Linked DNA regions of Homo sapiens: region 1 is linked to region 2. The links come from fine-mapping of genetic effects on gene expression. A gene starts in region 2. The other region holds a variant in brackets. All regions are shown on one strand. Distances are between the middles of the regions. Region 1 overlaps RAB21 (RAB21, member RAS oncogene family). Region 2 holds the start of RAB21 (RAB21, member RAS oncogene family).

The links.
Region 1: its variant is fine-mapped to the expression of RAB21 in T cells (TOPMed, PIP above 0.99).

The regions. Positions count from the first base shown.
Region 1 is chr12:71,776,091-71,792,537 of GRCh38, reverse strand. RAB21 (RAB21, member RAS oncogene family) reads right to left here. Exons shown (of 7, transcript NM_014999.4): 5 at 10,453-10,507; 6 at 9,880-9,968; 7 at 1-7,007. The coding sequence ends at 6,865. Among named protein-coding and RNA genes, the nearest start is that of RAB21, 29 kb to the right of the region's middle. The variant T/C (reference allele first, on the strand shown) is at 9,663.
Region 2 is chr12:71,743,975-71,760,421 of GRCh38, reverse strand. It overlaps RAB21 (RAB21, member RAS oncogene family), which reads right to left and starts at 5,559. Exons shown (of 7, transcript NM_014999.4): 1 at 5,134-5,559. The coding sequence starts at 5,292. RefSeq lists enhancers at 4,668-4,857, 5,498-5,787 and silencers at 5,238-5,517, 12,348-12,557.

The sequences.
Region 1 (16,447 bases), 32 kb before region 2:
TCTGGGGCACACGTTTAACCTTGTGTCATAGCACACATATGCTAAGCTATAGTCTTGACAGTGCAGAGAAGCTCCTATAAATTGTTGGACACTGTAATGCTCTCCAAGTAGGAAAATACACCAAGAGGATGAGCCCAACCCAGAGTTTTATGTGTATTAAGGAGCTTGGACTTGTACATTGCTCTTTCCCAACCCTATTTCCACAGAGGATAGCATTCAAGAGTTTGACTTGACTTTCCCAGAACGCTACAAGTTTTTAAGCTTGATGTATGGTAAACTTACATCTCAAAAGTCCAGTAAGTAGTTAACTTCTAGTTCCAGAACTATTACTGCTGATTTAACTTGCTTTAAAAGAGTATGATTCTAGGGTGGGCATGGTGGCTCATGACTGTTATCCTAGTACTTTGAGAGGCCAAGGCAGGAGGATCACTTTGAAACTAGTTCAAAAACCAGCCTGGGCAACAAAGTGAGAGCCATCTCCACAAAAAAAACAAAACAATTAGCCAGGCGTGGGTGGTGGTGTTATGCACCTGTAATACCAGCTACTTCGAAGTCTGAGGTGGGAGGATTGCTTAAGCCCAGGAGTTTGAGGCTGCAATGAGCTATGATCATGCTACTGCATTCTAGTCTGTGCGGCAAAGCAAGACCCTGTCTCAAAAAAAACTTCCAGAAAAAGAAGTATGATTCTAGTTGGCCTTGGTAAATTGGTCAGTTGAGGGTGGAATTTGATATAGGGTAGAAGTTCCATTCAGGGAATGGAAAATTTACAAAGGCCAAATATAAATATAAAACTGCATAATAAAGACACAAACCAAACTGTTAACAATGGTTACCTCTAAAAAGGGATGTGGGATGATGAGGGAAGGGAGATCTAAAAAGGAACTTTTGTTTTTACTCTATATTAAAGGCACAGATCAAATACAAGTTTGAATTTTTGGTAGCATCATGTCCTGTTATGGGAGTTGCTGTCAGAGTTGTATAAAGACTTGTTTTAGTTTATCTTGTACTTTTCCCCATCAGTTATACCTTTCCTCTTTTTCCTTCTTCCCTCCAATAAAAAACGTATTCTGATAAAAGAATCTGCTAAAGTTAACTCCTAGATTTTATACACTAAGCAGTCAACCGTCAGCCAAAAGTAATGAACTTCAAATACATTACAAGAGGCCTTCTAGTTTCCTGATTCACATGCTTAAAGCAGACCCTGATTCTGTCTAAGCATTGGCTTGCATTTAAATTCTATGATACTGACTGGGCCTAGTGGCTCACATCTGTAATCTCAGTACTTTGGGAGGCTGAAGTGGGAGGAATGGTTGAGGCCAGGAGTTCAAGACCAGCCTGGGCAACACAGCAAGACTTCCCATCTCTACTAAAAATGAAAAATACAAAAATTAGCCAGGCATGGTGGCTTACACATGTAGTCCCAGCTACTCAGAAGGCTGAGGCAAGAGGATTGCTTGAGTCCATGAGTTCAAGGATGCAGTGAACTATCACTGAGCCACCACACTCCAGCCTGGGTGACACAGCGAGACTGTCTCAAAAAAATGAAATAAAAAAATAAATAAATTTGGATACTAATGAAATCCACCTAACAGACCAGATTCCTTTTCAGGTTTCATGGAGTCAGAGGCTATTTTAAAAAAGAAAAAAAGAAAGAAAAAAAAAAGAAAAAGGCAAGACACATCCATAGAAATGTGGGAGGAAATAAAATGAAAAAGTCTGTATTTACCAAAGAGCTCCTAGACACGTTGGCAAGAGAAAAGGCAAATGGCAAAACACATGGGTAAGACACAATTTATGTGAAAATTTAAAACCCACAACACTATGTATTTCTATATGTAAACATATAGATATATTAATACATAGCAAAAAGATATTTGAGGAGTATATACTAGAGACCAATAGTTACTACCATTTGGGAGCACTACCAAAGGGCACTTTGACAATATATGTTTTTTATTCTTTTCCTAGAACATTTTCTTACATAATTAAATACAAAATGAGGAACTTTCATATTTCTAGGAAGTACCACATACAATGATTTCCTTAAAATAGCTTGCTACTAAAGCTAGAGTTTAGCAGATACCACTTCTTTCTACTTTTCAACATTATACTTTATCCTTGCTATCCCTCACCATTCTCTCATTGATCTACACATGTTCAAATGTAAAGAAATCACCTTAGCTTTTTCTTAAAATACGTGATAGTGAAGAGATGATACAGTTGCCAGAAAGTATCAAAATCAAGACTGAGAACTGGTATAGTGGGAATAAAGGCCACTGAAGTAGGCAACTCCACCTCCTCTTGACTTGTGCCTTTAATATGATGCATTTGAAAATATGTGCAGACTTCTAAAGAAAGATGCTTTAAGAATAAGAGACCTAACTGGGTATGCTGTGTAACATTAACTCATCATGTTTACTCATATATCTACTGAAGAGAAAATGTTGCAGTAGAAAGGTTAATGCGCCAAAGCAGTTTTCCAGAAAAGCAAAAATGTATAAATCCTAGATAGCACAAGAACTGCTAAAGGTCTATCAATTAAGTGGTATTTATTTAGAAGAGAAGCATTTCTGCTTGAAATTGAAAACTCTTAGGAGTATTTCTAAATTTTTTCCAATACATAACACTATTAAAATATTACAACTAGGAAAATTTTGCTCAAAATTGCAACTGTTTTCTTGAAAAGGTAAAGGCCATCAGACATATGTGTAGCACGAATTTTGGTCCAGAACACCAAATATATTACTCTGTTATAGTTGATTACAGATAACAGAACAGCAACATACTAAAATCAATGCATATTATGAAATCAAGTAGATGCGGTTCAATAAATTCCAGCTTTTAACTATTAAAGCCTAGGTAATGCATTTTATAATTTAGAGAAGAGTACTTAGGGATCTACTCAGTTTATATCTTTAGACATTATTGTGAGGCTCCTGCGGGTCACTACTACTATCTATATCCTTTTCCAGAAAATATCAGCATCTTAAATGGTCACAAATTATGTATTCCCTCTTTGTCACACTGAATCTACAGAGAAAACTGAAAACTCTACAGTGGCAAACAAGTCAAAAGATGAATTCTAAAAGTTAAAGGCACAGATCAAACTACTTTTAGAGATAACGTAACGGGTAATTATAAGAGTAAACTATACTATCTGAATATGTAAGATCAACTATCTAGAATCCTGGTAGCACTTATAATACAGAAAATTGCAAATTATATAATTAAAGAAATAAACAGTATCACAATCCATTTTTAAAATGTTCTTAATATTTGGCATAATGCATAGTTTGCCTTAATTAGAAACTCTTTGATAAAAGTAATGTACTTTTCAAAGTGATTTAAAAAACTGTCAGGTTGTAGTTTTTTATTTACTTGACTTCCATTCTATTCCTCCCTATGCTCTTTCCCTATTTTTCCAATTTTATCTTTCACTACTAAAAACCTAAAAGTGAAGTACTACTCTTCTTCTTCACTTTAATGTCAAATATAAAGTACTCCACTAATAACATATGGCTACTATTAAAAAAAAAAAAGATTTCAATGCAGTAACAGCCATAGCTTTAGGGTATTCTTAGGCAACACCCCAGACAAAACAAATCTGAACACTTATATTTCATACAATAACATAATGCTTTTTTCTTTTCACATTACTGCTTACCCCAAAAGCATGGCAATATACATTTTCAAAAACAATCTTCCCCTGTAATTACAATGAAAAACAAGAAGCAGAATACCCATCATCATTACAGAAACAATGATTGTATACTTTTAACATAATATTCAGGTATTTTTAATCACTATCTTAAACCAATTTTTAATTATATAAGTTAACTGTATATGCTTACTGGCTGAAAAAATACTGGCACAACCTACCTACTGCTTTTAATACACAACGTGGTAACTTGTGTCTTCTGCCTAATAGCACAATTATCAGAAAAAGAATGCAAAAGGTATATTAGAGAAATGAAGAAAGCATCAGAAAAATTTCCTCAGCCTTGGTTTATCATCTCTTTGTCTTTCCTTTGTATATATACTGAAGTTGACTGGTCCTCTTTCATTACTCTATTCCTACCCAAAGACCTTTTGGGTTTCAAAGTGACAGCAGCCATATCATGTTGTCTATTGTTGCTATTGAATTAGCCTCAATTACAGGCCCCCACTAAAAAGGATAAAGAAATACGTGAGGTTAAGAAAGATAACACAGAAACCAAAGGAGAAAAAAGAAAAAAAAAATATGAAGAATAGTTATGACCCACCAATAATTATCTGGCAATTCTGGAGCAGAGGTTCCTATCTAGCTGTTTCATTAAAGTAGGATGAAAAGCTGAAGTATAGCTCTCCAATTATCAGGCTTTAGAACGTTTTTTTAAAATAAAGCTCAATTTCATCTCTAACTAGTTTTTGTGCCTTTTACGAGATGGAGGTCTCAGTGTTACCTAGGCTGGATTTGAAATCCTGGCCTCAAGTGATCCTCCTGCCTCACTCTCCCAAGTAGCTGGCCCTACAAATGCATGCCTCTGTGCCCAGCTACTCTAGTTTTTAAAACATATTTCACTGTAATGAGAAAAGCTTATTTCCTATCTACTTCTACAACAGTAAGAATGGAAAAGCTTTCTTCACTCTGTCTGAAAGAGCCAGGAGGTCAAAAACAAAGTACCGTGATACCCATGATTCTTGCTACCTTCCCCCACCCCCACATAAATACTAACTTCACAGGAAACCAAGAGACTACAGAGTACAATTACCCCATAAAAGAAGACAATTTTAGCTTATCTCCCTGACTCTTCCCACCCCAACTTCCTCAAAAACACATAACAGAAAAGTCTGTGTTGAGTTTAGCAAGGACAATAATTAAAGAAGGTAAAGTGAAGGCTCACAGAATGCCTCCCAGTTTAAGTTAAAATTCCAACATCATAACATCAGGGTGTCAATTCATTCAACTTTTAACCCATTTGAGAAGGTTTAAGTTATTAACTTAAAAATATGGCAGTATTTCTTTTGTAACTATAATCTCTTTATAGCCTCTTAATTGCTCATGCTAATAGCTTTATTACATACTACTGCTTCTTATAAGAAGTAAATCCAGGGGCCATTCCATTTTATCTTAGACATAATATTTACTAGTTTTCCAAGCACGACAGAAATGAAAAAATATATATATTAGAACAAGAACAATTTATGTTAATCTCTACAATCTGTGTTCCTTCTGCGAGCAGTGCCTGATTCTACTAAAATTAACACATTTAAGTTCAGTCTTATGCTTAAGAAAAAAAAATCTAATGAGGGACTAATTTATAAAGTATACACAAATATAATTCTTTAATAAATCTTTCCAGTGTTCACTATATCTGCATTACATGTAATGTTTCCATCCACAGAAACTCAGGATAGTTCTTGTAAAATGAAACAGAACATTCTGTGTTCATCTCTGGCAAGCAATGAACAAATAGAACTTGCTCACAAAGGATCTAAAAGTGCTGCCTCAGGAACATAAACTACGTGCTATATGAATGAGTCTTGGTTAACTGGCTACTATCTGGGATCTCTTCCTCTGCTCATACCACTGAACCCATCTCTTATAAAGCCTATGAGAAAATGAAAGCTATTGCAGAAGTGAAATTCAACATGAGCCACCCAAATTCTTCTAAGGTAACCATTCTAAAGCAAAATCAGCAGAAGTCATCTCTTCTATAATAACAAACAAAAAACCCAAAAGGCAAATGCTACTGCTCAATCATCAGATGAACTCACAGAGGCAAAAATATGTGACAACAGCAATAATTCAAGTAAAGTATGTATGAAAATTTAAACACGCCATGTTCAAGTTAAGACAGAAGTGAAGGGGAGCTATGATCTTTATATTAGTCAAAAAAGCTAGGCATAATCACCAAATGTTAATTCACTTTACAGTCATCAATGAGACTATTGTATATATTTTTGCACCTTGCGCTTGTAAAAGCAGATAAAATATTTAATATGTAATTTACAATGTATTTTACCAGCTCAGCATACAGGATGTATACAGATTATATCAAAGTAGTAGACAGTTACGGGCCTGTGCAAACCCTGCAAAAATAGTACTTCAGATATCTGCTAATTAAAAACAAAAACAGTTTGCTGTTTAGAAGTGATACAATTTCAACTACCACAAAATACAAAGGGCTGCAAAAATGTAACCATTCCAACAACATATATAAGTTATTAAATAAAGATTTGATTTGAAAGAATATAAATGAAGACTTTAAGTAGGTCTTTTCTACATGCATATTATTCCTCATTAAAGAAAAAATATGTAAAAAGGCCATTGGTAATTGCTTTGTTAACATTTGTAGGCCGGGCACGGTGGCTCACGCCTGTAATCCCAGCACTTTGGGAGGCCGAGGCGGGCGGATCACAAGGTCAGGAGATCGAGACCATCCTGGCTAACCTGGTGAAACCCCGTCTCTACTAAAAATACAAAAAATTAGCCGGGCGTCGTGGTGGGCGCCTATAGTCCCAGCTACTCGGGAGGCTGAGGCAGGAGAATGGCGTGAACCTGGGAGGTGGAGCTTGCAGTGAGCCGAGATCAAGCCAGTGCACTCCAGCCTGGGTGACAGAGCGAGACTCCGTCTCAAAAAAAAACAAAAAAAAACAAAAAAAAAACAAAAAAAAACATTTGTAGAAAATGCCAATTCTCTGGTCACAAACTCCACTAAGTTTAGCACTTAAGGTCTCTGCAGTGTTATAAACGTAATTTAAAATACTGTTAATTCTATAATTCCATTGGTAAAATAATGTGACTTGGAATATGGCAGTCTTCATGTTGAGGGCAATGATCCACAGTTTTGTTCTGTCTTTTAATTTCTTAGGCGTGAACAGTTATCCAGAAGAACAGCACCCTCCACCACTGGTCTGGGCTTGAGGTTCATCATCAATAATCTGTACACCTCGCCTTGCAGTTCCCGGCTGACTAGAGCCATTGCCTTTTGCTCTCTCATCCACTTGTGCTGTTTCTATCATCCCTAAGACAGAGAGAAAGCAAACATTATTAGGACCACAATATTTGTGTTTTCTCTTTCTAAAATTTCAGTATAACACTATGATAGCTATTTCTGACTTTCGACCAACAAAGAAACTAAATATAATGAACATTGGGTCAGCTCACTAAAACAGCTTCACCTGCATGTTTTAAAAAACTAGTGTCAAAAACTAGTATCAAGTAGTAAGCTTATTTATCCAGTGGTATAATGGCCACAGTGATATCAATAAAGAAAAAAATTTTTTTGCTCTGAACAATTGCCTGCGTACAAGTATAATCCTTAAGATTTTCCAAACACACTTAGAAATATGTCAAAGAAGTTCAAATTATTCCAAGTAATATTTAGGGGGCAGGATTTATTCTTCAACTAGAAATGTAATACTTTTAAGTAAATGATTCTTTTTATTTTAGTTTTGAGAGACAGGGTCTCGCTTTGATACCCAGGCTGGATGTGCAGTGGTGTGATCATCACTTACTCACTGCAGCCCCTAACTCCTGGGCTCAGTTGATCCTCCTGCCTCAGTCCCTGAGTAGCTGGAATTACAGGTATGCAACACCATGCCTGGCTGAGTTTTTTTTTTTTGCTAGAGATGGGGGTCTCACTATGTTGCCCAGGCTGGTCTCAAACTCCTGGGCTCAAGTGATCCTATGGCCTTGGCCTCATAAAGCACTGGGCTTATAGGTGTGAGCCACTGTCCCTGACCACAGCGATATTTGAAGAATAATGGAGTTTAAGATGAGGGAACTTCGAAGAACACAGCAGAAAGACTCACACCACCTGATTGCAAGAACTAGTATAAAGCTACACTAATCAAAACAGTGAGACAATGATAGGAGAAATAGATCAGTGGAACCAAAAAAACACAGTCCAGAAATAGACCCCGTAGATATGGTCTCTTGATTTTTGACATGGTTGCCAAGGTTATTCAATGAAGAAAGAATATTTTCAAAAAACAGTAGTATTAATAGAACTGGACATCTATTGTAAAAAAAAAAAATCAACCTTAACCCACACCTTAACATCTTATGCAAAAAACAACGAAAAATGAATTATACACTTAAATGTAAGACATGAAACAAAATTTCCAGAAGAAAACACAGGAGAAAAATCTTCATAGGAGAAAATTTTTGTGACTTTGGCTTACACAAAGAGTTCTCATGTAAGACATAAAACATGAATCATAAAAGAAAAATAGATAAACTGGACCTCACTGAAACTTAAAACTGCACTTTAAGAGACACAGGTAAGAAAAATGGGAATACACAACACAGACTGAGAGAAAGTATTTACAAAACACGTATTTGAGAAGATGAAGGAAGAAAAGAGGGTGTCCTTAAAATACAAAAGGGCTCTTAAATTAGAGACTGCTCTTGATTAATGGTTTACAATTTGAGGTATGTGGGACAATCCAACAAGAGGAAATAAGAAAACATTATAAATTCTATATCTACTTATTTTTAACTTTCCAAAATTTCTATTTTTTAGGTATGTTTTAAAATGTACATATTAGTACTTGTACATGTTATATAATTTCTAAATAAACATGTGGAGCATGCAAAAATTGTTTTGAAGATGTGATATTTATAACATTTGTAAGCCACTGACTTAGTGCATTGTTATTTAAAAGCATTATCAGAAGGAAGGAAGGGAGGGAGGGAGGGAGGTAAGGAAGGAGGATATCCTGATGACTAGCATCACCACCACTTGGGTGCTTGTAGAAATGAGGACCTCAATCTATCCCACACCTATTAAATCAAAATATGCATTTAATAAGATCCCCAAGTTGTTATGTACAGCATTGGCTCTTATATTTTAGTGTGCATTGGAATCATATGAAGCGTTTGTTAAAACACAGATTCTGGGCACCATCCCTAGAAATTCTGATTCGGCAGGCTTGGAGAGCCCAAGAATTTGCATTTCTGACATATTTTCAAGTGATATTGATGCTGCTGATCAGGGGACATCACTTACATAATCAATATTTTAGAAGAATTATGAATGACTTGAGGGTTTTATAAAACTAATTTATTCCAAAATGTGTGTGTGTGTGTACACACACACACACATATCAATATTCTTTTCTAGAGAGAAAAACCATGATTTCATCAAATTCTCAAAAGAGTCTAAAGTCCATAAACTCAGATATGCATTTTATTGGTAATATAAGAAATGATTTTCAGAATATATATAAATTTATTTTCCTTTTTCTTTAAAACTATAAACTTTTTAATATGGAAAATTTCAAACATAAAGTAGAAAATACAGCATAATGAAAATCCATCACCCAATTTCATGAATAACCCTAAGCATCCCTACCATTATTTTGAGTCAAATCTCAGACCCATAACTTTATTCCTAAATTATTTTAATGTGTCTTTAAAAGATAAGAACTCCTTTTATAAAGCATAACCACAATACCATAATCACACCTAAAAAATTAATAGTATCTTAATATCATCAAATATCTTGTTTCACAAACACTCTTTTTCACTAGTTTGACAAATCAGTGTCCAAATAAGGTCCATTCATTGCAAGAGGTTGTTACAGGTCTTAAATCTGTTTTAATATGTAAATTCCCCTTCCACTTTTAATACTTATGCATATATTATAATATATATTTAGCCCACACCATACTTA[T/C]GATTTCATAACCATTAATTACTGCTTGAAACAGGGTTAAAGTAGGTATTTAAGCATTAAAAAAAATAGTTACAGCACTTCAGAAATACTACCAATAGTCAATAGTTTAAAAAGAACCAATTCTTTGAAAAGTAACACTGGTGTAAAATACATACTATTTTTTAAAAAATAAAAACCAAAAACCATTTCTAAACAAACTAAATCTGAATATACCTACTTTTACAAAGGTCAAGAAAGAGTTCCTCAATTCCTTTGTTCTGTTTGGCTGAAGTATGATAATGTTTTGCTCCCACAGATTCTGCATACCTTAAAAAAAAGTAACATCGGTGATTGATGTAAAATATTATTCATGATTTTGTCTTAACTGCTTTTTTATAGTAACAGTTTTAGTGACATATTAATTTACTCAAGTTTAGTGAAATTAAGTTTATATAGCTATTTAAATTCTCTATACATTAAATCAAATTTTAAATAACACAAATATAACAAGCCTCGAAATTTTTATAGATTAATTTGGGACTCAAATACTTCAAAAGTTTTTCTGGCTTACTGCCTATTTGATCATGATAGTTTTGTTTTATATCACTCGTATTTTTCACTGAAGTCAAAAAGGGAAGTAAGGGCTTTATTGCCACAAGCCCAGAAATTACCATGTAAACATGCTTCACTGAATCCAACACCTCAATCCATGCTAAGAGATTTGAGTAATACCTAAATGGTAAAGCAAAACGTATAAAGAGGAAGATTTCTACTAGGGAGTGATGGGGAATGGGAGGGTCACAGTACTTACGACTCTGCTTCTTGAATGGAAACATGTCTCTCCTTTTCCAAGTCTATTTTATTACCTATTTTGAAAAAAGTAAATATTTATCTTTATACTGATTTATTTTCATAACAAAATTAAGCCAATTCTAAATATAAAATTGCCATTTTAATTACCAGCAAAAATAATGCAAATCCCCACCAGACTTCTAATGTCTTGAAATTATAAAGTTAAGCCTTGTGATCTGAGGGTTGATCATGCCTCATCCTCCTTCAAATGACTCAATTCATACCTTTCCTGAATCTGCAGCCTCTGACAAAGAAAACAACTTTTCCAAAGAGACAGGCACTCTTTTTTGATTTTGGGGGATACCAGAGACCTAGAGATAAACCTATGATTCTTAGGCAAGTGTAAATGATCAAAAGTAAGAGCAAAATTTTCTACAGTTCCCATTAACTTAGAGCCGGTCAATAAGTATGGCTATCTTAGTGTTTACTAAAATATATTAATCTAGCCTCTTGGATCCTACAAGTATTTTGGTTTCCTGGATGATATAAACCAGTTAAAGTAAAAATTAAAGTGTACAGATTTTTAAGTACTCCACAATCATAAGGGGAAAAACTGTATTCTCTTTTTTTTTTTTTTTGACGGAGTCTCGCTCTGTCACCCAGGCTGGAGTGCAGTGGCGCCATCTCGGCTCACTGCAAGCTCCGCCTCCCGGGTTCACGCCATTCTCCTGCCTCAGCCTCCTGAGTAGCTGGGACTACAGGTGCCTGCCACCACGCCTGGCTAATTTTTTGTATTTTTAGTAGAGATGGGGTTTCACTGTGTTAGCCAGGATGGTCTCGAACTCCTGACCTCGTGATCCGCCTGCCTCGGCCTCCCAAAGTGCTAGGATTACAGGCTTGAGCCACCGCGCCCGGCCGGAAAAACTGTATTCTTTGTTTAAAAAACAATTTTAGTGAGTTATTAAAACTTAATATATGTATATCATGCAGATTTAAATTATAAGTTTAGCTCTCCTTAAACAACAGAACCAAGCTGGGATTATACTTTTAAAAAAAGCCATCAGAACAAAAATGAAGAAACTGCAAAATACTGATTCCTTGAACTTAAGATGAGTTGGCTGGACACCCAGAGTGCTAAAGGTAATAAAAACAGTAGATAACGATAAGGAAAAATACCCTATGGAAGGACACTTCAAACAAACATTTTTATTCTTCTACTATGGCTTTTAGGGAGAAAAGAGAAATCTTATAAATAAGGTTACTTTTTTTCTTGGAACCATATAGATTCTAGGAGACAATTTCAGATAAATTTCAGATAAGGCATTGAAATAAGCACCCAATAAAAGATAAAATGTTTAGCACTGAGGTGGACAAGTCCAAAGGTTCTATATACTGAGGACCTCGAATAATCTGAGAACCTAGTTGCTGGCAACTGCAAGAAACTATCTGCCACCATAGCCTAAGAATCAGAGAGAGGGAAGCAGACAACACTAAAGCTCAGTGGATACCAACAAATTCAGTAACAAACTCTTCCTTCTTTGAACAGCTATCTACCACAGCAAGAAGTTTCATATTAGTTCTAACTTCCTACATTATATTTGTCATTGGAAATTTTAATTAGCTAAATATGACAATGTCTGACAGTAACCAGAGGAAAAACCGTCGTGTTATTCTGTAAAGAATGCAAAAAGCACCACCTGGTGGCCAGTGGCTCCAACAAACAGGAAAAAGATTCTGCCTCACAAAGGCAAAATAAGATAGTCTCCTACTAAAAGTAGCAATATTAATTTTGCTTCAATTACCTAAAACCCTATGGAATTTTTTTCTAGGTATTTAATGGCTCATGTTCCAAATTCCATCAATATCATCAATACCTATAAAAAGAGTGAAGAGAGGAAAAGCAGGCAATCACCTTACTGCCTCAAATGAACATTTAGGAGAAATAATTCAGACACTGCTTTATTATTTGATAATATTTTAAATGACTAATTTTAATAAATCAGGCCATTAATAAATAGCTATCTTAATAACCTATTATTTTAAACTTAAAATATTTTAAATCTAAATAACTATTATTTCTTTGAATAATCAGTGTTCACAATGGATTGACAGCACAGAATACATTGCAGAAACCTGACTGGCTAGTGACTGACCTCTTTCCAAAGCTCAAAAACCCTTTTAGTTTCTATATTTTTTCAAAAGCAAGACAGCTAAGGAGTAAGGCTTTGAGACTCATATCTGCTTCAATACTACTGTGCAGCTACATACGGAACTTTCTGATAGGCTTAAAACACCTGAAAACAAGGACAATAACCAAAGCAAGCACCTACTTAAAAGTATAGTACTATAAAGAATTAAAAACATAAACAAATAGGCTGACACTATTGGAAAGGGAGGGAAAAAGCTACCCTCTAAGTTAAGCAGATCTTCCTTAAAAATACATATTTGAATTAAGAACATAGAAGGGGCATGTCCACTGCTAAGGGCAAATGGCCTAATGATATAGAACTAGAATCATATTATGCTTAGACTGAATGGTTGTGGGGCACAGTGGAAAGAAGCTTTCAGAAAGCTTTTAAATGTGATAAAACTTGTTTTTAAGTCCTTGCTTACTCCATAACTGTAATTTTTTTTTTGTTTTACCTTTTTTTGAGACAGGGTCTTGCTCTGTCACTCAGGTTGGAATGCAGTGGCGTGAACACGGCTCTCTGCAGCCTCCACCTCCCGGGCTCAAGCGATTCTCCTGCCTCAGCCCCGAGTGGGACTACAGGCACACACCACCGCATCTGGCTAATTTTTGTATTTTTTTGTAGAGATGGGGTTTTGCCATGTTGCTAGGCTGGTCTCAAACTCCTGGACTCAAGCAGTCTGCCCACCTTGGTCTCCCTAAATGCTCGGATTAAAGGCCAGAGTCACCACGCCTGGCCATAACTGTAATATTTTGGACAAATTAGTTAACCTCTGTTAGTCTCACTGTACGCATGTGTCGCTAACAAACCTTGCAGGGTTGATGTGAAAATAAGATATATGTAAAAGGCCTAGCATATACTATATGCTCAATAAGGAACAGTTATTAATATTAATGACATTCATCACAGTGAATGATCAAATGGAAAGTCAATATTGTTGTAAGACAATTAAAGTCCATGACAGGTAATACAAACTTACTCCTGACCTCAAATGATCCGCCTGCTTCAGCCTCCCAAAGTGCTGGGATTACAGGGGTGAGCCACCACGCCTTGCAGGTAACGCACTCTACCATCATCCTACTGGCTTCATCTAGCTAACTTAGTTTATCCAACACTTGGTCTAGGAAATGTTCCCTTATCTCCCCCTTGCACCCCAAATCTAGTTTGTTTGCTTTTGTGCTCTCATAGCACTCCATTCTGCATTTCCCTTCCATAGCATTTATTATAACATATAATAGTAGCTTGTTTTCCTCTCTTTTTCCACACAAGAGACTCTGGGAGGACAAGAACCGTATCTATTTTGTTTACTTATTCACTACACTATTCCCAAAGCCTGGCACATAGTAAGCAATGAAGTGTTTATTAAGGATATGGGCTTGAAGTGGCAGGCAGATCTGAGTTAAAATCCCAGGTCTACTTCTAACAAACTATGTGACTTTGGGAAGTTTCAAGGTCTCTAAGCACATTTTTTCATCTGTAAAATGAAATGGTCTTCCCCTCAGCATTGTCAGGAGGCTTAAATGAAGTAAAAAATGTGTACTTAAAACAGTGCCTGGCACTCAGTAAATGGTGACTACGATTAATAATAAATATTTGTTCAAGAAACATACAAATATTAAGGATAGACTAGATGCAGAATACTATCAACCACAGCCAAGGGTGCCTATCAATGGATTAATGACAACCTAGAGGAAAAAGTCTCTGCTATTGAAACATGTGGTTCTCTATTACTGGTTAGCACATGGATATCAGGGACTTAGATAAGGATCTAGGAGGTTAAGTATTCAATTTACACATGAAAATGCTAGTAGACTGTATATCAAACATAAAGATTCAAAAACATGACAAACTGAAATTTCTACTTAGCTTTAAATAGTTACATGAGAACAAGCTGGGAAACATCTGGCTGAATAGCAATACTTATAAAAAAGGACTTGAGATTTTAGATAACTATAACCTATGTAAAAGAGACTAGTTGACATGTCTGCTAAAAAATTTAAGCAATCTCAGGCAATCCTGATAGAAGGCCAGTGTGAGGAGAGAGACAGGGTCTATAAGAACATACTAGCTCAACAACATTTGGATTCTATGGTTTATTTCCAAGTGTGGGAGACATACTGACACAATAAAATAAACCTAGGAGAGAAAATGATCAGGATGATCAGAATGTCTGGAAGGTAGGCCACATAAAAAAACAGCTGATCTAGAGAATTTAAGACTTAAAGTGAGCCGTTTAAGTAGTCTTCAAATGCTTGAAAGGTTATCTTATGTAAAGAGAAAAGAATGAATTCTTGTCAAATGTTTACCTCTATGCCAAGTATTTTTCAAATCATTATATAATCTTCATCATAACCCTGAGAAGTAGTAGTATTATTTCAAAGTTACTAATAAAACAGAAGAGAGAATAAACACTGAACTACTACAACAGAGAATAAAAATCAAGAAGTGGGAAAAACAATGCAAATGTCCATCAATAGCAAAACAGATAAACTGTGGAGTATTCATAGATTAAAGTATTAGACAGCAATCAGAATAAAATGAACAACTATATACAACATAAAGGAATCGTAGGCACATAATGTAAAGTCAAAAAAGCCAGACCCAAAAAGAGTTAATATTATATGATTCCATTTATATAAAATTCAAAACAAAACTAATTCATGCAGTAAAAAGGATAGTGACGGGGGTGGGGAATGGTGAGGGGAAAACAACTGTGAGTGTTGGGATGAAAAAGCAACACAACTCAGGGTCCTTAGGTACTGCTTACACCGTGCAATTTTCATTTTGTGAAAATTATGTTATTGAAGATTTGTACACTTTTCTGTACATATAATGAAAAACTCACTTTAAAAATCAGTTAAGTGAAGGATACAGGGAGTATGATTTCAGCTAAATGTGAAGAAAAATTCGTTTATTGCACTGTGTCAGAAAAAATAAGTTGTTCTCCAACACCAGCGTGTATGTACACTAAATCAGAATTAACAGCACACAGTGCCTGGTACAAAGAAGCCACTCAAAAATACTTGTAGAAGGAAGAAAGATGGGGTGAAAAGAAGGAATTAATTCTTAGTCCCATCCATAGAGATTTTGATTTAGTGTATCTGTAACGAGGCCCAAAATACTTTTTTTTTAATCCTTTAAGTTATCCTAATAAGTTTGGGAAAAGTAGTAAATAAGCTCTCAGAATTCTTTTTTTTTTTTTTAAACGGGAGACTGGAGTTTTATTATTACTCAAATCAGTCCCTAAGTTCTCAGAATTCTCCCAACTCTGAATTCCAAGTAAAATTCCATGTCACACTTGTCAACAGAAGAAAGTGAGAGCTTTCTATACTTCACACTAATAATTAATAAACATTATATAATATTAAATGGGGTATTTGACCCTACCTGAGGCAATAGGCTACCAGATCCAATATTCCTAAAACGTCTTATAATATGAACATTAAAAATATACACTATATAAACATTTTTAAAGAAACCAATTCACTATCTGGCAACCACTCTCTCTGATGCTCCAGTGAAAGTATCTTCCCTGAGGTTCAATTTAATGTTATGCCTTCAACTTTTAGAGAGGGGCAACATAAAAGGTACTTCATTGAACATTAAAAAAAAACAAACACACTTTAAACTATTCATGAGCTTGTTTAACTTAGATGATTTTTTAAATGTTACTTTGTGACCTTGGTCAAGTAACAAGCTCTTGGGGTTTCCTTGACTTTATGTATGTGTTAGTAATTTCTATCTTCAGAAAGATGATCAGAATCCCAAAATATTAAATCTTCAGTCATTCATCTACTGTGGCCACTTCCACTCCTAGTAAGTCCA
Region 2 (16,447 bases):
AAGCCTCAAATCAGCGAGGAAATCACACGAGAGCTTGGGGACTCTATATAAGTTAAGAGAGCTTACGTACAGGATTACTCCGTAACTATCAGTAACCTTGGAGCAGCTCTGGAAAAAGAGAGCCACACTAAAACACCAAAGTATGGCAAATGTCACAATTAAAAAACAAAAAAAAGAAAGTGAATTCCGGAAATGTAGATCTCAGTGAAAACACTAGAATGGATTTGCTTTGTTTTAAAAATATTTAACCTATAAGCAATTTTAAATATAATGACCCCTCAGAGACAGCATGAGTTCTCAAAATAATTCATGTGAAAATAATCCCATTACCCTTTTTGACTGAATTGCCATGAAAGAAAAACATAAATCCCGCATCATTTATTCATTTAACATCAAACAGCAAACATTTATTAAACAAACATGTGCCAGGCTCTGTGCTAGTAGCTTTACATATGACGGCTGTCTATGTAATAATCCACATAAAGTCCTATGAGTAAGGTACTCCCATTTTAAAGAAAAGGAGCTTGCTTACAGGCATTAGAATATCCTGTCAGGATCACGATGGCTATGAAGTGGGAGTAAGAATTCAAACCCCAGTGTAACTTCAAAGTCCTTTCTCTTTTCACCACATTATATGGCCTCCTAATAGATTTGAGTACTGCAGAAACACAGCCTATCTTGTCTTCTGCAAGAATTTGACAAAGCATCTCATGATAACCTTGTGGGCAAGACAGATGTAGCTTGGGCAAAAAGGAGAACTGTAATGCTGGAGTAAATGTTTACATTTTATTAAGGGATTTGTGTCCACTAGGTAGTAGCCCATAGCAGTCAGTCTTCCATTATCATTAATATGTATAGCACTCCATTAACAACTGTTTCTTACTCAAGGGAAGGAGGAGGGGATGGCCTGTGGCCCATGCATGGCCCAAAAAAGCCCCTAAGATTCTATATGTCTACAGAAAATTGCACTTCTGGTCATGTATCACTGGACTACAGTAAAACTTGCTGCAGAGCTTTGCACTTGGCCCTCTCTCTCTGCTTTCTTTCATAGTCTTTAATAATGACCTGTTGAGAACATTAAAGGCATTCTTACCTAACTTTCAGATGACAAAGTTAAAAAGTAGCTAATCCAGACAGTAGATTCCACACCTTATTCTTTGCCATGTCCAGGACCCAACCCAGTACCTGGCCCAAAGGAGCCCAGTCAGTGTTTTGTGAATTACAGAATCCAAATTAAAAAGGACATTAACAGGCTTAACTATTGGAGCAAATCTACCAAAGCCAACCTTAATGGGTCAAGTATATTAGAAACAAAAGAAAAAGCTTAACTACAATACCAAAGAAAAGAGAATCTGAGAGATACAAATAATGCCTTTTTTTGAAGCAATTAAGACTAAGATGTTTCAGTTGACAGCAAATTCAATATTTATCAAAGAGAAATTCTGAGAGCTTCCCTAAAAGCTCAGAGAATCTCTTCTACTTCAGTGTTGGAAAAGGATTCTCAACAGGAGAGGTGACAGCCTGCACTTCTCTGTTCAGTTCAAACCACCACACCTGGAATTATTTCTACAGCTCAAGGAATCACACTTTAAGGAAAGGACAATGATTACATAGTGCCTAGAAGAGATTCAAAATAGTGAAAGGGCCAGGCACAGTGGCTCATACCTGTAATTTCAGCATTTCAAGAGGCCAAAGCAGAAGGATTGCTTGAGCTCAGAGTTCTACAACAGCCTGGGCAACATAGCAAAACCTCAACTCTACCAAAAAAAAAAAATTAGCCGAGCATGGTGGCGCACGCCTGTGGTCCCAGCTACTTGGAGGCTGAGGTGGAAGGATTACTTGAACCCAGGAGTTGGAGGCTGCAGGCAGCTATGATATCACCACTAGAGCAAGACTCTGCCTCCAAAAAAAAAAAAAGTGAAAGGATTTAAAACGATGTCACTGTCACTGGAGATCCAGTTAAGGGAGCCAGAGTTGTTTACCCAAGAGAAGACAAGATAGCTATCTTCAACTATCAGAAGGAATGTCATATGAGACACCAAGACTCAGTGGGGAGAATTAGGACTGAAAACTACTAAAAATAAAATAGGACCGGAAGTGGTGGCTCACACCTGTAATCCCAGCACTTTGGGAGGCCGAGGCAGGTGGATCACCTGAGGTCAGGAGTTCGAGACCAGCCTGGCCAACACGGCAAAATCCCATCGCTACTAAACATACAAAAATTAGCCAGGCATGGTGGCACATGCCTGTAGTCCCAGCTACTCGGGAGGCTGAGGCAGGAGAACCACTTGAATCCAGGAGGCAGAGGTTGCAATGAGCCGAGATCGCACCCCTCCACTCCAGCCTGGGTGATAGAGTGAGACTCCATCTCAAAAAGAAAAAAAAAAAAATTTAAAAATGAAATGGGACACCTTAGGACAAAGTGAGCTTTCCACTTTCCATAATACCAGTTCATTTCACCTCCAAGATGTTAAAAAAAAAAAGGGGGACAATCACTTGACTAAACATTAGAAGACCAAAATAGTGATCCATACATAACTGTCTTAAATTCCTGTCAATCCTGCAATTCTTTGAAATGTATGAGAATGTACTTTATAAAATACAAAGTAGTTTACATAGACAGGTACTCTGTTGACGAGAAAAAAGGTGAACTCTTCCTCTCATATCTTCTGACATGATTTCCTCTCCATTTGGAAATTAAAAGAATACAAAGTTGTGTCTTACAAGTCACATAAATCAAATTCCTCTGAAAAATTGTTAAGAAAGATGAGGTTAACTGGTATCTCTGAAAGAGATTAGACACATTGCTGTTTACATACATTGGTGTACAACAAAATCCTAAATTCTATAATATAATTCAGATATTAATACTGGATATCTACTATAACTTCATCCTCCCCTCTGTGGAGTACAGTGGCTTTTCATATATTTAAAAACCTTTACTCTGCTTTCAGTTTCAAGAATGTTTTAGAAATTTAAAATGGAAGTGTAATTTTTAAGTTGAAAGGGTATGGCCAGGTGCAGTGGCTCACCCCTGTAATCCCAGCACTTTGGGAGGCCAAGGTGGGCAAATCACCTGAGGTCAGGAGTTCGAGACCTGTCTGGACAACATGGTGAAACCCCGTTTCTACTAAAAATACAAAAAAATTAGCCAGATGTGGTGGCGTGTGCCTGTAATCCCAGCTACTTGAGAGGTTGACGCAGGAGAATCACTTGACCCAGGAGGTGGAGGTTGCAGTGAGTGGAAATTGCTGCACTTCAGCCTGGGCGACAGGGCAAGACTCAAGTTATCTTTTGAAAAAAAACGTGGAGACCTCAATTACAATAGTTTTCTTTTATCTTAGATCTTTGCATAAAGGAAAACACTAGATGGGTTATTTATCAATATACCGAGGTAATGTGATTTAATTGCTCAAAATCTGAAGTCAGACAGGGGTTCAAATTTGAGCTTGGACACTCCTGCCCCATTGACTTGTGGTAATATTACTGCCAGCAAAATTACTCAACTAAACGTTTTTCCTCAGCTGTAGGGCTATCCACTAAACTATCCACTTCATAGGGTGTTATAAGAATTAAAGCAAGCAGACAGAAAGCAAGCAAAATAATCAGCACAGTAAGAACTCACTAAATGTTAGCTATTGTTACTACTTTACCTAAGTAAATCTCTAAACTTCCAAATGATCCTAGGTATTTGTCCAGTGAATTTTCTTGATCTAAAACACCAGGCTCTCACTAATGACACTGAACAATAACAATTCATTATTAAAATTTTGTCAGTGTTCTGGTACAAGGATTTTTTAAAAATGCAGTTTCCTGGCACTCACTTTTTCAGATATGCTTTACATACGAGTAAAATCAGAGGAGTAAAAATAGAACATGGAATCAGAGCCAGAGCGTCTTGTAAATTCTAGACTCAGTAGTTTAATAATAGCATCAAACATCCAATGTCACAACAATTAGGAGATTACGCATTCTATTAAGTAGTGTCGATGTTCTCACATACTACACATTTACTAATTAAGACCTATTGTGCAAGTTGGGGCGGTAATTAAAGGCAGACAACTTACACTGGACCAGGTCATCAGTGCTTTTTCTGTATATTTATCCTGACAACCCTATGAGCTAGATACTACTATTATGGCCATTTTAACAGAAGAAACAGGCACAGACAGGTTAAGTAACTTACCCAGTATGACACAGCTAGTTAAATGGATGGAGGTGAGACATGAACCTGGACAATCAGGCTCAAAAGTCCACTAGACTTTACTGCCTTTGACCAAATTGGTAAGTCAAATTAGTAGGATAAATTTCTCCTAATAACATCAAAACTGATTTCTCTGGGAGAGGTGGGGTGAGTACAACTCCCTCAAAGGCCTGGCTTCACTCTCAATCAATGATAACATTTTAACACCTTTCCAATGTACCTGTGGAAGAAAGCCGACCTTTTATTTTACAGGTAAAGAAACTGAGTAACAGCAGCGGCTTTTAGTCTGGGGACCAATTGTTGGCCAGTATTCACTTGATGTTTCAGCGTGGGTCAATCGACCTCGCAGAATATGAGTGACCCGCAAGTCAGACCCACGCAGGCTGCAATGAAACTGCGTAACACGCCTAGGCAAGCGGTCATTTCAAAAAACCTCCAGAGATGGCTCTTTTGCCATTCCTGTTACTCAGGACAAAATGGAACTTGCATAAACACTTAGTCATCAGTAAGCGCTGAAGTTACAAATCACCTAATTCGCAAAATCAAATACGCAGCTAAGTTCCTAATTCTGAAAGAAAGAAAAGGAGCTAACATTTGGAGACTGCAACACTGACACCTGGGACCCAGGAACTGCAGTAAATGGGAAAAAACAGCCCACGGACGGAGACCACAACGTGCGCAGCCACCACGGGGAACACTGGGGACTTTTCAGGGCCCTTCCACTTCCCTCCCAACAGCCTGTCCTCGCGTCTACAGGCTGCCCCGACCTGGTGATTCCCCAGGGCGAATTCGGAAAGGTAAACCGAAGGCGGAGATGACAGGCCTGAGATTTGCCAGCCTACATCCAGGGGACCAGGGCGGCAAAGTTTCCCCAGCCCCGGAGGGGTAGGGGCCCTGAGGCGCCCCCTCCCGCTCCCCGAGGTCCGCACCTGCAGAGTGGTGATGTGCTTGTCGTTAAACTTGTTCTCGCAGTAGCGCAGCACCAGCGACGTCTTCCCCACGCAGCCTTCCCCCAGCAGCACCACCTTGAACGAGTAGGCTCGGCCCGCCGCCGCCGCCCCGCCGCCGCCGCCGCCGGCCGCAGCCATCCCGTCGCTTCCCGGCCGCCCGAGCCCGAGTGTCGCGCCGCCCTCCCGACAGCCGCGGCAGCGCCTTCACAGCCACGGCCGGCTCAGCCCCCACCGCCCCGGCCCCGCCGACCCGGGCGCTGTCCCCACGCCCTCCTCGGGCGAGGCCTGGAAGGGCTGAGGGAAAGTCCGAGAATGAAGGGCCCCAGCCCACCACGTCAGGCACCGGAGGAAAAGCGAAGAACGATCCCTCTCTGCCTCCCTCTAATGGCGTCTCCTTCCTCCTACGTCACACCTCGGGTCACGTGAGCGCCGGTGCCGGGGCGGCCCCTGCGACTAGCCCCAGAAGAACGTGCCTGGACGTGGGCGGGGCTTCTGGGGCATCTCCCGGGGTGGAGCTGGATGTGAGTCGAGCGCCTACTGGCAATCTAGGGCAGAGCCCCGCCGCTTGCGAGCCACCTCTGCTTTTCAGTTGGTGGGAGCCAGCGGGAATAAGGAACCAGGAATTTGAGGCGAGCCCAGCTCTGGTGAAATGAAGGGCAGAACTTCATCGTTTTTGCATGTTCACAATGCTAATGATCTGTCACACCAGAGGTCACTGTAAACCATATCTGCCAAGGTGCCCTTGAATCTCTCTCTGTGGGATCCCGAATCATAGCGCTTCCAAGTTCCTCTGACCGCCTGGTCAACTACTCCATCATCTTTCAAGTCTCAGCTTAAACCGCGTCCCTGACCACCCAATCCTTCCCCCATCCTTCCATTCCCCCACCTCACAAAATTAGGTATTTCTTACCACCAGTATACCTCCTTTACTAGGGCTTTACACACTCCATGGATATTATTAATACTTTGCTAAGTGTTTATCGACTCTCATTAGACTATAGGTTTGTTGAGGGCAAGGTCTGTATAAGAGCTGCCCACCTTTGAATTCCTAACCCCAAGTGCTCTTCAGTTTTTCTGACTTTCATGAAGCCTCTGACGTTCCATGGTACTCCACCTTGAGGTGGCTTGTTCGATGATTGCTTGTTTTTTCTCATCTGCATCCCCATTCTTTTTTGTTTGTTTGTATTGTTAGTTTTGAGATGGAGTATCGCTCTGTCGCCCAGACTGGAGTGCAGTGGCGTGATCTCAGCTCACTGCAGTCTCTGCCTCCTGGTTCAAGTGATTCTCCTGCCTCAGCCTCCCGAGAAGCTGGGACCATAGGCGCCCACCACCGCGCCCCGCTACTTTTTGTATTTTTAGTGGAGACAGGGTTTCACCATGTTGGCCAGGCTGGTCTTGAACTCTGACCTCAAGTGATCCACCTGCCTCGGCCTCCCAAAGTGCTGGGATTATAGGTGTGAGCCACCACGCCCGGCCTGCCTCCAAGAAACCATACTCCTCCAAGAAATCATACTAATATTTCTGAAAATTTACTGGAAACCTGGTGTCAGGTAAACATTTTTTTAAAAATCAAACTTCTTTCACACTTCAAACCAGGTTAAAAAAAAAAAAAGAGGCCGGGCGTGGTGGCTCATGCCTGTAATCCCAGCACTTTGGGAGGCCGAGGCGGGCGGATCACAAGGTCAGGAGATCGAGACCATCCTGGCCAACATGGTGAAACCCCATCTCTACTAAAATACAAAAAATTAGCTGGGCATGGTGGCACAAGCCTATAATCCCAGCTACTCGGGAGACTGAGGCAGGGGAAGCGCTTGAACCCGGGAGGCAGAGGTGGCAGTGAGCCGAGATCGCGCCACTGCACTCTAGCCTGGCGACAGAGGAAGACTCCGTCTCAAAAAAAAAAAAAAAAAAAAAGAGAGTCGGTTAATTCATTCAACAAATATTTAAATGTGCCCACCATATGCCAGGCACTGTGATCAACAAGATAAAATGTCTCTGTCCTCACAGAGCTTACATTTTATCAGGGAAGACAGACATACTCAATTGTACAATAAATGCTTTCATCTTGATGAAACAGTTCAGAGTATCTTGCAAGCATATATGAGAACCCAACTGATTTAGCATGCTAGAGAAGCTTTCCCTGGAGAAAGTTATCTTTGGGTAAGAGTAACCTAGTCAGGAAGGACAGGAGAGCTCTGCAAACAGAGATAACAGCATGTTCAATGGCTTTAGATAGGAAGGAGCATCTAAAGTTGAGCAACTGTAAATGTGACTAGAATTTAGGGAGGAAAAAAAAACTCCAGAAGAGACCATGAGGAAGTTGGGGATCAATACTGAAAGGGTCTTTAAGCAAATGAAGGATTTTCGTAAGATGACTGACATAATCAGATTTGACCACTCTGGCTATCATTTGAAAAGTGAATTGGAGAAGGATAATATTTTAGATTTGTTTAGAACCAACCATTAAAGAGACTCTATGTTTTATAAAATATCCTCATGATTGTATCTAAAGATATATTTTCCAACTCTCTCCTCCACATTCCTCCCCTTAGGGTCTTTGCACATTTATAGACACTTCCAGAACTAGAAAAGAACTTCATTTTGAGAGAGCACCTTCCATTGTTCTTTCTGAGCACTTCCTCATATTGGATTGAAATCTGCCTCTCTTCACCTGCAATTAATTATTTCTGTTTATATTTATACATTATATATCGAATCCCTATTCCCTATAAACATATGAAGAAGGCTGTGTGTTCTTCCTTTAAGCCTTCTCCTTTCTTCTTTTTGATACAGCCAATCCTTTCAACAACTTTTCAAATTGTGTGCATTTGATTATTTAACAGCTTGGTCATCTTAGAAACTAAATGCATTACTTTGCATTTATCACTAAATCAAAGCAATTAAAAATTTTTTTATTGTAAAACAAAATAATTTTTTTGTGAGACAGGATCTCACTCTGCTGCCCAGGCTGGAGTACAGTGCCACAATCACAGCTCACTGCAACCTCAACCTCCTGGGCTCCAGCAATCCTCCCACCTCAGCCTCCCGAGTAGCTGGGACTGCAGGTGTGTGCCACCACACCTGGTTAATTTTTTAATTTTTTTTGTAGAGACGATATCTTGCGTGTCTTGCTGTGTTGCCCAGGCTGGTCTTGAACTCCTGGGCTCAAGCAATCCTCCAGCCTCAGCTTCCCAAAGTGCTGGGATTACAGGTATAAGCCACCACACTCAGCCAAAATAATTTTCGAAGTTAAAATAAGTTTTTACATTTAGCTTACGTTGACATTTAAGAAGGTAGTGCAAGTTTTCATGGGTTACAATAAGTAGGTTGGCATACTTTTGAGCACAGAGTGGGTAAATATAGATGTAAATTGTAATAGGCTGATAACGGCCCCTAAAGATATCAGCTCCTAGATTCCGGAGCCTGTAGATGTTACCTTATTTGGGAAACAGGTCTTTTTGATTTAAGTTAAGGATCTTGAGATGGGGAGATTATCTGGGTGGGCCCTAACTGCAATCACAAGTATCCTTATAAGAGAGAGGCAGAAAGAGATGCTTCACACCCAGAAGAGGAGAAGGCAGTGTGACCATAGAGGCAGATTATGGAGCAATGTAGCCATAAGCCAAGGAATGCTTACAGCCACCAGAGCTGGAAAAGACAAGAAGCCCCTAGAGCCTCTGGAGGGGGTTCAGCCCTGCAGATATGCTGATTTTAGCCTAGTGAAACTAATTTTGATTCCTGACCTCCAGAACTAAAAGAGAATAAATGTGTGTTGTATTAAGCTACCAAGTTTGTGATCATTTGTTACAGCAGCCATAAGAAACGTACTTAAGTATGTTGTGAGAAAACAAGTAGCCCATAACAGTCAAAGCATTGAAAGAGATTCAGGCCAATTCTGGGATAGATTCTACGCCCTTAAGAATTTAGGTCAGTCTTAGAGTCAACTATGATTGGTCTGTATAAACTTAACACGGACTGCCACAAAAAAAAAAAAACACTAGAGCTCCAGTTCCTCCGTAGAGAAGAGCTGCAAAAATATGGGGACACTTCAGTGAGTGCATAACTCAAAACATATTCCTGAATGGTGAGGACTGAGGCATGATAGGGTGCAAATTCATGTAGCTCCTCTTCCCCCAGTAAAAAACAGGAATAATTATACAGGTGAAATCAAGTTAACAATGAACATGCAGCACAATATCAAATGGGGAAAAATTGTTGCACAGAGGTAAAATGCAGCTTTAATTCTGTAGGCGGGAAAGAACAACCTCACCCATTTTGTGGTGGTTATAAAGTTGAGTTTATGGACTACTTATAATGTATATGAGACCTAGTTTTTGGAATGACTCTTCCTTTCTCCCCCTGTTCTTGCACTACGTTTGTGAATTAAGACCAATGTCCTGGGCCGGGCATGGTAGCTCATACTTGTAATCTTAGCACTTTGGGAGGCTGAGGCAGGAGGATCGCTTGAAGCCAGGAGTTCAAGACCATCCTGGGCAACATAGCAAGATCCTGTCTCTACAATATTTTTTGTTTTGAGACAGAGTCTCACTCTGTTGCCCAGGCTGGAGTGCAGTGGCACAATCTTGGCTCACTGCAGCCTCGACCTCCTGTGCTCAAGTGATCCTCCCCCCTCATCCTCCTGAGTAGCTAGTACTACAGGTACACACCAACATGCCTGGCTAATTTGTTTGTATTTGTAGAGATGGGGTTTCACTGTGTTGCCCAGACTGGTCTTGAACTCCTGGGCTCAAGTGATCCGCCTGCCTCAGCCTCCCAAAGTGCTGGAATTACAGGAGTGAGCCGCTGTGCCTGGCCCTGCAATACATTTTAGAAAATAAGTAGGCATAGTGGCATGCACCTATAGTTCCAGCTATGTGGGAGGATCACTTGAGCCTAGAAGTTCAAAACTACAGTGAGCTATGTTCATGCCACTGTACTCCAGCCTGGATGATAAAACAAGACCCCATCTGCAAGGAAAAACAAAAAAAAGACCAATATCATGAATCCCAGTATGATCATATAACCATGTAGAGACCTCAATTGTTGAATTTTGATGAAATAGCTAGAGTCAAGGAGTCAGATAATTCTTATTTTTCATTTGGAATGGAGGATTGTCAATGGCCTTTGTATATCTCTGGTTCATTCATCCTTCACTCATTCATTTACCATTGAAAAAATATATGGTGAGAGATGAATGTAAAGAGGTAAATAAGATTCTATACAACCTTGAAAGTCATGCTTGGGCTTTACTATAGGAACAATGAGAAGTCTTTTAGGACAGTGTGACATAAAATGCAGTCTTCAGGGCAACAGCAGCAGTTAGAAGCTTGTTAGAAATACAATTCTGCCATCCCCCACCCCCATTAAATCAGAATTTCTGCAACTGAATCCAAGAAGAAACTTTTCTTTCACAATCCCTCCTTGTGATTCTTATTCATGGTAAAGTTTGTAAAGCACTGACTTGGAAGGTAGAGTTAACAAGACTTGGGGAACAATGGTTACGAAAAGTGAGAAAGTTAGAGACAGGGAGGAATAAAAAATGAATCCTGCAGTTTTGGTTTAGTCAACTGGTAAATGGTGATGACTTTCACTGGAATAAAAAACACAGGAGGAAGAAAACATTTTTTGATTGTACTTTCTTGGTTTTGTACATTTTGATTTTGAAGTGCCTGAGGTATTCTCAAGTATAAATATCTAGTAGGCAATTGGTTTTATGAACCAGCAGCTTAGGAGAGAGATCTGGGCTTGAGAAAAGGACAAAGACATCATCAATGCACAGAGAGAAATAGCTTCCACAGGGGTAGAGGAGATCACCCAGGGAGAGTGTATAAAGTGAGAGGGTCAGAGGGCCTAGGACAGAGCACCTGAGAACAATGACTTTTAAGAGATGGGTAGAGGAACAGGAGCTGCAAAGAGATACACAAAGAAATTAGAGGAAAACTGGGGAAGTTAATGTCAAGGAGAGAAGAGAACATTCTAAGAAAAAGGGAATCATGAAATGTTTTGGAGAGGTGAAGTTAAGTATGGACTGGTCTTTATGTGTCTTAAGTATCTACTGGTTTAGCTACAAGAGAGCAATTTGAAATTTTGATTTGAACGGTTTCAACTGAGTGGTAGGAGTTGAAATAAACTTGCTCAGGAACTTAACTAAAGATGGTTGATTTAGTCTACTAGTTCTTAACCAGGGGTAATTATGCTCCTCAGGGAACATTTGGTAATATCTGGTGATATTTTGTCTACTGGCATTTAGTGGGAAGAGGCTAGAGATGCATTTAAACATTTGACAATGCACAAGACAGTGCCCCACAACAAGTGCCCCAGCCCAAAATGTCAATGTTGCCAAGGTCAAGAAACCCTACTTTAGCCTAATGAAGTGTGTATATTTTTACAGCCCGTCATAATTATAAATCCACTGGTTATATTAAGTTATGGAGGCAAACAGAGAGTAGGGCTGAACAAGTAGTAAAAGAATAAGAAACTCAAAAGCTCGAAGAAACTATTTCCAACTTTGCCAGTATTATCTATGCATGTCTTTCACATAGTCATTTAAGTATTTTCTCAGCTTCATTTCTCCACGTAGAATTATCTTGTATCCCCAAGGCACTTTTAATCCTCCATTGAACATTGGTTCCTTTTAGCAACTGTTACAGAAAATACATTCTTATTCTAATTAGATTTTTCCTCAGAGACAAAAGGAGAATTCAAAAACACTTTTATAACTACTTGGAGAAATTCTAGTACTTACAGATGCACTGTTTCTATATCACTTTTCTACAAGTACAAGAAATTTCAAGGAATTTGGGTTAATATACTATAATATGCATCCTTTCAAAAAAGAATAAGTTGAGTATTAGGAGCTAAAGTGTAGAAAAACAGGAGTACAACAGGAGAGATAAACGAACCTGAAGAAAAACAAAACAAAACACGATTCCTGCAGCTGCCACAGTGGAGGGAGCTGAAATTGGGGGTTTGCCAGCAAAGCAGGGATTTTGTCTGCTATGCGCTAGAACTGTGTCTGTCACATTTTTGTATCTCCAGTTTCTGGAATGTAGTGCTCAATTAATATGTGTTAACTGAAACAAAGGAATGAATGGAGCTAAGCCTATAAAATACTGTGTATTAAAAATGAGGTTTGAGAAATACTCCTGGGCATATGGAGCATTGTTAAATAAAATTTACTCAAAGCAGCCGGGTGTGGTGGCTCATGTCTGTAATCCCAGCACTGTGGGAGGCCCAGGCAAGTGGATGACACGAGGTCAGAAGTTTGAGACCAGCCTGGCCAACATGGTGAAGCCCCATCTCTACTAAAAATACAAAAAATAAGCCAGGCGTGGTGGTGGGTGCCTGTAATCCCAGCTACTCGGAAGGCTGAGGCAGGAGAATCGTTTGAACCGGGAGGTAGAGGTTGCAGTGAGCCGAGTTCGCACTACTGCACTCCAGCTTGGGCAACAGAGCAAGACTCCATCTCAAAAAAAAAAAAAAAAAAAAATTTACTCAAAGCATTTTCCATCTTAAGCCTCTAATAAGGGTAATAGAATAGCAGCTATCAACTAATGTGTAATTTCTATGAATGAATCCCATTTATTCCTTTATTGCTCAATCATTCAGCAACCTTTGTTGTTGAGTGCCTGGCAAGATGTCTCTGCCATCATGGAGCTCATATTCTAGTGTGGGAGGCAACACAGAAACAATTACAATATGTGTAGTGATCATGTTTGATATCTACCCAGCATGCACACCCCTTTCTCCTTTCAATCAAAATCCAGTCCCTGCTTAGCTATCTACCCTCCCCGGTGTAGCCCAGGTCCCCACAGCTTTGGGTCAGTTCTAATCTCATTCCCCTAGGTTCTTTGCAGCTTTTTTTTTTTTTTCTTAATAGAGATGGAGGTCTCACTATGTTGTCCAGGCCGGTCTAGAACTCCTGGGCTCAAGTGATCCTCCTGCTTCGGCCTCCTGAGTAGCTGGGATTACAGGTGAATGCCACCATGCCTGGCCTCTGCAGCTTCCAAAGCCACTATTTGTACATCTGAAGCAATCTTTCAAATGCTTCTCACTGGCAATAAACTGAGCTGTAATTGTAGTCACTGGCCACAGAGAGGCACTAGCAGCCCAATAAAATTTACCAGGTTGGCCAGCATACATTTAAAGCTGCCAGCGTAATTCAAAATTTAGGTGTCCTTCAACATTAAAAAGAAGGAAACCATGGGGAGATTTTTTTCTGAGTTGTAGAAAACAAGAATATTCCAAAATCCTATGACTCTTGGGTGGAAAAGGGGAGAAGATACAGTTCACAAGCCATTTTTCCCTAAGTTGTTAACTAAAAGTGTCCCAAGAAACTTTACATATGTTTGTCAAAGAAGGAATTTAAGTCCAATGTTCAGCTTCTCAGATCTTTCCACCAGTTTCTACTAAAAATATACACTCTCAAGAGTTAAAAAGGGAAGGCAAGTAAAGAAACCGAAAACGTTGTTTAGTCATAAATATGTAAAGTCGTTCCTCAGTATTCATGGGGGATTTGTTCCAGGGTTCCTCATGGATACCAAAATCCATGAATGCTCAAGTCTGTTATATAAAATGGTGTAGTATTTGCATATACCCTATGCACATCCGAGTTTCACTCTGGTTGCCCAGGCTGGAGTGCAGTGGCGTGATCTTGCCTCACTGTAACCTCCACCTCCTGGATTCAAGTGATTCTTCTGCCTCAGCCTCCCGAGTAGCTGGGATTACAGGTGCTCACCACCACGCCTGGCTAATTTTTGTGTTTTTAGTAGAGATGGGGTTTCACCACATTGGCCAGGCTGGTCTCAAACTCCTGACTTCAGGTGATCCACCCACCTCAGCCTCCCAACTTTCTGTATACTTTAAATCATCTGTAGATTACTTATAATACCTAATACATTGTAAATGCTATGTAAATAGTTGTTATACTACATCGTTTAGGGAATAATGACAAGGAAAAAAGTCTGTACATGTGGAGTACAGACATTTTCTTTCTTGAATATTTTCTATCCTCAGTTGGTTGAATCCACAGGTGCAGAACCCACAAATGGTGGGCCAATTGTATTTTATTTTGCCTTTAGAAATTGTATTTTGAAATAACCATGGCATGAAGCTTACCTAATTATATCAGATGGAAGTGTATGTTTGAGATGATTGGTAATAGGATGTATAACAGCAATTTTTTTTTTTTGAGATGGATTTTCACTCTTGTTTCCTGGGCTGGAGTGCAATGGTACAATCTTAGCTCACCGCAAACTCCGCCTCCCAAGTTCAAGCGATTCTCCTGCCTCAGCCTCCCAAGTAGCTGGGATTACAGGCATGTACCACCAAGCCCGGCTAACTTTGTATTTTTAGTAGAGACGGGGTTTCTCCATGTTAGTCAGGCTGGTCTCGAACCCCCAACCTCAGGTGATCCGCCCACCTCGGCCTCCCAAAGTGAACAGCAATTTTTTAATTACTAAAAAGTTTCAGTTCAGAATGGTAACAGTCTCAATGAGTCAGTCTGCAGTATGTTGATTTTTAAAAACTAGATGCCACTAGTCATATGAAACTGGAAATTCTAGAGATATTTGTCTATTTGAGATGGGCCTGAATGACTATTCTTTCGCATCTTCTTGAGAAATCAGTCAGTGTAGAGAATTTTAAAAGCCTCTTTAATAAAGAAATTGCTTTGCCCTGGTGAAATAATTTGGCTGAGGATTCTTACAGATTTGTGATGTTGAGATTGGAGAGCTTTGGGATAGCTGTAGTCGAATGGGAAGTTTGTAAGTATTAATACTAGTGTATACTGAGAATTATACCATTCAGTACCACTTATTTGAGTGTTTTTTCCTATTGGTTACTCATTCCTACTTGGAAAAGATTTTAATTAAAATCCAGCTGTTGTTAGGCCAGGCGCAGTAGCTTGCACTGTAATCCCAGCACTTTGGGAGGCCAAGGCAAGAGGATCACTTGAGGCCAGGAGTTTAAGACCAGCCTGGGCAACATAGTGAGACCCCCCCATCATCTCTACCAAAAATTTTTAAAAAAATAAAATCAGCTAGGCATGGTGGTGCGCATCTGTAGTCCCAACTACCTTCAAGGCTTAGATGGAAGGATCACTTGAGCTTAGGAGTTTGAGGCCACAGTGAGCTATGATCATGACATTGCATTCCAGCCTGGGTGACAGAGCAAGACCTTATCTCTAAAACAAAACAAAATCTTACCATTCTCCTATACCCCTTTTTAAGTACTTCCTAGCATGTATTATTGAGTATTATAATTACTTATTTATCAGTACTAAAGATGTAAGTTCCTGAACTAGTCGAGATCTGCCTGTTTTGCTTACCATTATATCCCATGTATAGAATAATGACTGAAACACAGTAGGTGCAAAATAAATGGCTAAAGGTATTATTCTTATGACTTCATTTTCACTATTTTTTTTTTTTTGGCTTTTGTGCAAACTTCCATTTCCTTGAACTTCCAAGCGCAGCCTCCCTCCCCAGTCCATCCACCAGTCCTCTCTTGGTCTCTCTCCCTCTCCCTGACTTCTAGCTGCCTCATACTCCCACGCTGCTCACAACCAGGTTCAGACTCCGCATTGAGTATCTAAACTCTTACCAGCACATTTCATTTTCATATATCCTTATATTTACACTGCATCATCACAAAACACCAACCTTAAAGTGAACTTCTGGAACAATTTTCTAAGCCACCTGAATTTTGTGCATCAATACAAATTCATAGTTACTAACTTCATTCTCAGGGCTATCAGTCCCTATATTCCTCTGGCTTCAGCTTCCTCTCTTATTCTCCTTTACCACTATTATGAACTTTCCTCAGTCTACTTCTGGTCCTAATTAGAGTTGTTCATAGCATACCCTTATTATCCTTTAGTGTCTGTGGGTCTGTAGAGATCTTCCCTCTTTTATTCTTCATATTGGTTATTAAGTATTCTCAGTTTCTTGGTCAGTCAAGTTAGAGATTTATCAATTTTAATTATTTTTCTAAGAGTCCACTTTGGTTTTATTGATTTTTCTCCACTATTTTTCAATTCTCAATTTCATGGATTTCTGCTGTTTATTATTTCTTACTTCCTGCTTGCTTTGGGTTTAATTTGCTCTTCTTTCTCCAGTTTCTTAACATGGAAAATTAGATGACTGACTTGAGATCTTTATTCTTTCCTATTATAAGTACTTAATGCTATATATTTCTAAGCACTGTTTTAGGTGCATCCATAAATTTCAACATGGTATATTTTCATTTTCATTCAGTTAAAAATATATATATTTAGTCAGGTGTGGTGGCTCAC